Linked DNA regions of Homo sapiens. The protein of the gene in region 2 purifies or fractionates together with the protein of the main gene of each other region. This does not show direct contact. Each region holds a gene or a part of one and is shown on either strand. Other genes may lie near its edges. The genes, in order: AKAP12 and SCLT1.

Evidence for each region.
Region 1: the proteins of SCLT1 (region 2) and AKAP12 purify together in Homo sapiens (affinity purification with mass spectrometry; one large-scale study listed by BioGRID and IntAct). This does not show direct contact.

Annotation. Positions count from the first base shown.
Region 1 is NC_000006.12:151,351,143-151,354,966, reverse strand, and holds part of AKAP12 (A-kinase anchor protein 12), read right to left. Parts: coding exon 1,227-3,824; 3' UTR 1,215-1,226; intron 1-1,214. UniProt on the Homo sapiens protein: Anchoring protein that mediates the subcellular compartmentation of protein kinase A (PKA) and protein kinase C (PKC).
Region 2 is NC_000004.12:128,939,931-128,943,754, forward strand, and holds part of SCLT1 (sodium channel and clathrin linker 1), read right to left. Parts: intron 3,259-3,824; coding exon 3,066-3,258; intron 1-3,065. UniProt on the Homo sapiens protein: Adapter protein that links SCN10A to clathrin. Regulates SCN10A channel activity, possibly by promoting channel internalization.

The DNA.
Region 1 (3,824 bases), on a different chromosome or scaffold from region 2:
GCTCACGACTGTAATCCTAGCACTTTGGGAGGGTGAGGCAGGAGGATTTCTTGAGGCCAGGAGTTTGAGACCAGCCTGGGCAACATAGCAAGACCCCTGTCTGCAAAAAAATTTAACAATTAGCTCGGAGTAATGACATGTGCCTGTGGTCCCAGCAGCTATTCAGGAGACAGAGGCAGAGGCAGGCGATTTGCTTTAGCCCAGGAAGTCAAGGTTGCAGCAATCCATGATTGCACCACGGCATTCCAGCCTGGGTGACACAGCAAGGCTCTCTCAAAAAACAAAACAAAGATAGGGCTGGGCGTGGTGGCTCACACCTGTAATCCCAGCACTTTGGGAGGCCAAGGCGGGCGGATCACGAGGTCAGGAGATCGAGACCTCCTGGCTAACACGGTGAAAACCCATCTCTACTAAAAATACAAAAAATTAGCTGGGTATGGTGGCGGGCACCTGTAGTCCCAGCTACTCGGGAGGCTGAGGCAGGAGAATGGCGTGAACCTGGGAGGCGGAGCTTGCAGTGAGCCGAGATCGCGCCACTGCATTCCAGCCTGGATGACAGAGCGAGACTCCGTCTCAAGAAAACAAAACAAAACAAAACAAAAACCACAAAGATGGGGAGTTACTAGCAACTGCAAGTAACTAACACAGTGAGGGTCGGTCATTATATGCGCTGGAAAATTTTTAAAAATACTTGTTACTACTGCTAGGGGAAAAAAAATCCATTTTTTCTGAAAGAGCTATCATCAGCTATATTTCAGGCAGTTTAATATTAGCCCATTTGGGGGCACTAGTTTTTTTTGTTTGTTTTTTTTTTTTGAGACGGAGTCGTGAGGCACCACGCCCAGCCATTGGAGCACTAGTTATTTTTAAAAAAACTCAACAAGATAGTTGAGTGAACACAATGTATTTCTTATGCCTTTGGGTCAAACACGCACATGTGCACACACACATGCCGTTTTATTTTATTCTAAAGCAGTCACATTAGGAGGTAAAACGAAGTCGTTCTTTTCATAACATCGATAAGACTAAATGGCATTTCAATCACCAAAAACCATGAAACTATCCTAGATCTTTGAATCTAGTTGATAGTTATTTTCCTCAACTGAAGGTTCTACACGAAGGCATTAATTATTTGCTCCCGATTCCTTATGTAACAAATTTGCCATCTATTGGCATAAAAGAGAAAAATTATCTTAGAAGACAAGGAAGCTTACCTGCATGATGTTTTAAGATTCTGTAAGTTCTGACTTTGCAGATTCTCTCTCTTGTTTCTGTAACTCCTCCTGTGCTTGGGGTGTGATCGCTTTATCTGATTCACTGTGCACTTTTCCTTCCTGCAATTCTACTTCCTGGGCATCCTCCTTCTCTTTTTGTTTTGGTCCATTTGTATCTGGGGACTCTTTGGTTAAGCCTCCTGAGGCATCAGTATCAGCCAGGGCTGAGTTCTGGTTTTCAGGGTCATCAACATCATCACCTTTTTCATCTTCTTTCGGTTCAACTAGTGACTTCTCTATTCTTTCTGCTAACAAGGCATGACCATCATCTTCTGGCACAGACTTTGTTCCAGCTCCACCTCCCTCTTCCTCAGATGGGAGGACGACCTCTTCCAGCTGCTGATCATTTACAGTGGAACCTTCTACCTCAACAGTCATGGTCTTTTCTGAGGCTTCACTCATGTCTTTGGAAATATCAGAATGTGCTTGTCCCACTGCGGTTGACTCTGACTCCTCTTTGGCTGAAGTAATTGGTGTTTCATCCTGTGCAGAGGCCTGAGGTTCCTCTCCTTCTTTCTCCGTTTCCTGTCCAGCGTCCTGGCTGTCAGCTTTTATCACGTGAGCTTGTGTCTGTAACTCAGACGTCAACATTTCGGTGGCTGTTTCTTCTGTACGTACAAACTGGTCAACGGCTGTCTGGATGATGTTTTGGACAAGTTTACTGCTTTTGGTCTCAAGTTCCAAAATCCCATTTTCAGGCTCTAAATCCTCAATTGCTACACTCACTTTGACCTCCTGGCAAGCAACCTGCTCATCGACTTCATCTGACTTCCACTTCAGTGATGTGGTTTTCTCTCCTTCCAGGTCGGAACTTAAGCCTTTCTTGGTAGTAGCAGATACTATCACTGGTGTCGATTTTGCCTGACAGTCGGGCCCTGTGGGCACAGCATCTTCCCCTGGATGAGCGGCAAAGTCTTCATTTTTTTCAGAGGATTTCTCTTCCAGAACTAAATGTGCACCTGCAGGCTCCAACGTTTCACCTGTTTCTAAAATGTTGGCAGTTTCTCCTAAGACCTTTTCCTCCTCTGCAGCCGCTGTTAGAGTGAATGATGCCTCAGAGCTCTGAACTTGAATTTTGGTGCATACTGCCTCCTCTTGACCTAGGCAGGGAGGAGGGCTTCCTTCCAAACTGCTGACTTCCTTTGCCCCATCTATGATGGGCACATTCACTGTCTGGAGGAGCTGCTTACTGACCTCTTCAGATACGGTAACAGCTGTTTCGTGCTCAAGCTTCTCTTCATTCACATGGGTTGGCTCTGCTTCTGTTTTCTCCCTTTCGACTTGAACTACCATCTCTCTCTCCACGGGGGATGGAGGAGACTTAGCGTGACTCTGCAGTTCAAGAGCATCATCCTTTTTACATTCAGCTTCTTCTGTCCCTTCACCTTTAAGGGCAACTTCAGTGACCTTTTCCCGACTGACTGTTATGCCTGTGTCTATAGACCCCTCAAGTCCTTCGAAAAATGGTACGTCTTTGGTTTTCTCATCAGCATACTGGTCAGCCTCTTGAGTCCCCTCAGTCTTTGACAGAATGGATACAGTTTCCACTGACACCTCTTTATCTGTATGCTCTAGAGTGTCTTCCATCTTTGATTGTTCTTTAGTTTCTTCCTGGAACACAAAACTGGAAGGTGCTGGAGGCCTCTCTTTCTGTGCAGGAACTGCCTCTGCTTCTGTGCCCCCTGACTGGGTACCAGATGCGACCTCATTCTCCTCATGGATTTCCACAATCTCGTCTTTCTGGGTTGTGCCTGGTGCGTCAAAGTCGGCTACGGGGGTGCTTCCATCAGTCTCACTGTCTGTAGGGGTTTCCACCGAGTCAGGGGGGATAGCCTGTTCCATCACCATCTCCTGTGATTTTACCCCAGCTAAGGTTTCGGCTTGACAAGTGGTTACAAGCTCACTGGACTCTATGCTCTCTGTGACTTGAGGAGCTTTTTCAAAGCTTTCTGGGGTGGTCTGCCCCACCACCTTCCCTTGTGTAAAAGGCTCAGTTTTTGCCTCCTGAGCATCTACTTTCAACACTACATCCGTCTCTTTCTTCAGACCCGACGCTTCAGCCTGCTCTTCTGGTCTTTCTGCCTCTGCTCTCTGCACAGGCTGAAGCACATCTTCTGGCCCACCGGTGCCAGGCAGCTGGGATTCCTCTTTCACTTTTTCTGCCACTGCCTGGAGGACCTCTTGAGTCCGCCTCTCTTGCTCTTCTATGTCAGGTACGCCACCTTCCACCTCCTGCACCGGAGTGGCCTCCTCTGTGGTGTCTGGGGAGTCGGTTAACTGGGAGACTGCTGACACCATTTCTGTGGTCTCTTCAGCAGCAGATGCTTCGGTTCCTTCTTCGGCACCCAATGGCCCTGCAGTTTCTGCAGCTGTCACAGCTTCGGGGGTCAATTCCGCCTCACTAACGACCGTGTCGCCCCGGGCCTCTCTGTTCTCTGGCAGAGGTTCAGTAACCGTGGGGGGTTCTTCTTCTGCAATTACTTCTCTTTCCAATACCTCCTCAGTTAACAGTGCGGCTTCAGCTTCTACTTGTTCAAGAGGTTCTGTCAC
Region 2 (3,824 bases):
TTATCTTACAGCCTTCTTCCTCCATAAAATAGAATTATAGCTAGTTAGTTAAGACGTTCGGCTCTTTATCAATGGCTATTCTCTTAAGCTAGATACAGATTTGGTGAGATATGTGGGGTAGATAAACTTTCTATTACTCTTTTGTTGTCCATAACATCAGTTACTATCCTGAAATGTTAAAGACGGATCTAGTGGAGTACTAGATAGGAAAAATTCATTGATTCCATCCCCACTCATTATAAAAAAAAGAAAGCAAAACAAATACATATTGTAAAATTATGGAAAATAACAAAGCATTAAAGTGAAATGTTAAAGACGGATCAACTGGAGTACTAGATAGGGAAAATTCATTGATTCCATCCCCACCCATGATTAAAAAAAAGAAAACAAAACAAATATATATTATAAAATGATGGAAGATACAAAGCATTAAAAAGACAACTATAAGGTCCCTCTATTCCCAAAACTCAGATAATCCCTTCTAACTTCTACATAATTGTTTTTATTTATGAATTCTAAAATTGTTATTACAGTATGTAAAGGATTACTACATGTATGTGTGTATACACATAAATTTTTCAATCATAGGGTGTATCAATATAAATGCATTATAAATTATTTGGAAATATAGTTTTTAATGACAATACAGTATCTTATTAAAAACATATACACTATATGTCAAAAATACATATGTGTACACACAGGTAGTAATCCTTTATACACTATAGTAACAATTTTAAAATTCATAAATAAAAGCAATTATGTAGAAGTTAGAAGTATTATCTGAGTTTTGGGAGTAGAGGGACTTTATATATTTTTTTTAATGTTTTGTATTTTCCATAATTTTACTATACATATAGATGTAACATATTTACTTCTAGATATTTAGGTTGTTTCTAATTTATTATAAATAATGCTGCAATGAACTTATTTATGAAATATTTTAATTACTTTCTTATGACTGAATTTTAGACTCTAAAGTAAATACGTACCATTTAATACTTTTAGCTGCACGTTCACTTAGAGATACTTAGCAATTAATTAATGGTGAGTTTAAACTGCTTACTGCCTACTGTTTTTTTTTCTTAGATTGCAGATTCTGTTCAACTCTCACATGATTTTTTATTCGGTTACAAATAGTTTTCTCTTATATTTTTAAAAGCTCTTTAGATAAAAGCATGGGAAAACCTGCCCCCATGATTCAATTACCTCCCACTGGGTCCCTCCCATGACACACTGGGATTATGCAACTACAATTCAAGATGAGATTTGGGTAGGAAGACAGCCAAACCGTATCAGGATGTATGTATGTCTGGCTTTAAAAGATAATGCTACATTCCCAGCAGTATCTATCAAAGTTCTAATTGCTTTATATTCTTAAAAATACTTGATATTTTTAGTCTTTTTAATTTTAGCCATTCTGGTGGTGTGTAGTGTTATCTTGTAGTTTTAATTTAAATTCTCCTAAAAAATAATGAAGTTGAACATATTTGCCTATATGCTATTTTATGAAGTGCCTACTTAAGTCTTTTGGCCTTTTCTGGAAATGGAGTATCTATTTTTTTCTTTATTAGCTATTAGCTGTTTTTTCCTTATTAATATTTTTCTTATTAATTGGTAAAAGTTTTTATATTTTGGATATGAGTTCTCTTTTTGGTTATATGCACTACAAATACTTTCTCCCACTTTTCCCTTTCTTAATGGTGTCTTTTGGTGACTAAAAATATCTTAATTTTAGTGAAATCCAGTTCAGCTTGGATTTTTCACCATGGTTAGTGTTTTTTTGTGCTCTGTTTAAGAAATATTTCAAACCCAAAGGCAAGAAGATTTTCTCCTAGAAACTATCATTTCACATTTCACATTTAGGTCTACAAAGCAGCTCCAACTAATTTGCATATATGCTGTGATATAGGAGTTAAGTTTTATTTTTAAAATATGGATCTGACTGATCTAGCACCATTTGTGAAGCCAGTTTTCCCCCCACTGAACTGCAATGGTGCCTTTGTTATAAATCAAGTGATTATGATAAATGAGTTTGTTTCTAGACTCAATTTTTTGCCATTGATCAAGTTGATTATTCTTATGTTGATAACACATTGTCTAAATTATTTTAGCTTTTTATCAAGTCTTGATATCTGGCGGTATGGGTCCTCTCCTTGTTCTTCAAAGAACTCCCATAGTCTAAAGGTCAAAGTACAAACTTCTTTTTAAATAAGACTCTCTTTTTCATTTCGGAGTTCAAGGTTTTACAAATAACTAGGGCATTTCATACCTGCAATAGGAGGCATTCAATAAATTTATGTTGACATGAATTAGGTTGGAATATGACTTCTTAGGAGTCCTTGCAGCAATAAAAACCAAAATAAAACAGTGACATGACCTCTTCATATTCTTACTATGAAATTGGAAGATGTAGATATTTATCATAAAAAGTTAGTGCCACTTTTTACAAAAGTCTCATGACATGGGGAAAGGTAAGCAAGATGTTGATGAAGATTGTGTTACTTGAAAGTCCCTTAAAAAGAGGATCACCTTCCTATTACCAAACCATATAAGCATCAGAGGAGAAGGAAATAAGAGAGAAAAGAAAGGGAATTTGTTTTAGATGACATTTTTGCCTCTTGCCTTCTTCCTGCCATGGAATTTTCAGACTAGTTATGAATGGTTCTCAGAGCCTACTGCTTTAACATCCTCTATACAGTTAGTTTTAGAGAAGTTCAACTTTTCAAAGGCTACTACAGAGAGAGAAGAGAGGAAGGCAGTCTGTAAAGTTATCTAATCCATGGTTTTGCTAGTGCTGCTTAAATTGCTTTGGCAGGAATATCAGTATATTTCGTGGTTGGAAAAGAATTTTTTTGTGTGTAGCAAAGGCAATCATTTTCAAGTATGCCTGCCAAGTTCTACAACACAGAAATGATTGGTTAACACTCTGAATTATGATTTAGTGCTATCTGATGAGAAGGCAAAAAAAAAGGGGGCCTTAAAGATGTTTTGCTAGGTCTCTCTAAATATTCTCTATACTTTGATTTTCATAAGTACACATTTAACTCTAGTCTTGAAAATACCTTTACTTTGGCTTTTTTTTGAGCCTCCAGGGCAATCTTCCTTAAACTCTCAGTCTCTTTCCGTAACTGTTTATTTTCTTGCTGAAGTTTTAGCCTTTGTTCACTGACAAGCCCACAGTTCTCTCTCTCAGACTCCAATACATTTTGAAGTTTCTGAATCATTTCTTGGTAACGTGATATTTCTTCTGAGGAGCTGATTAAAAAACGAAATGAAAAGAATCCTTAAACTTAATGATCTATAGTAGAAGATAAAAGTCTGTCTACATTTTATCACATGGACTTTTGTTTGCTTTATTCTGAGCCATTTCTTTCCACTTTAGACTGAAACTATGTGGTTTCAAAATGTTATGTTATACCAGGCAAATACATTCAACTTAAATATATTCAAATTTTAACTAAGAACAGATGAATTGAACTGTTATCACTTATCTAGAAAATCAATGTGAGACTTCTTTCAAATTTGTACTAACATTAAGAATCACTGTGTATGGAGAACTTCAAGGAAATGAACTGAAGCAACAAAAAAAGGATGAAGCGGATAATAACCAAAACTCCTTTACTTAATCAATAAACTCCATGGACTAACACAATAGCTGACTATATTACTAAATTATAAAATCTACTTTTATATTTTTCCATTATATGTCTTAGAAATACTTTTTATAAACTTCTAGTTCTGTAAACTTCTTGTTTTATCATAGGTTAAACGGATTATATTTCCTGAACTGTCTCAACAATGGACCACTGATCACTGGGTGA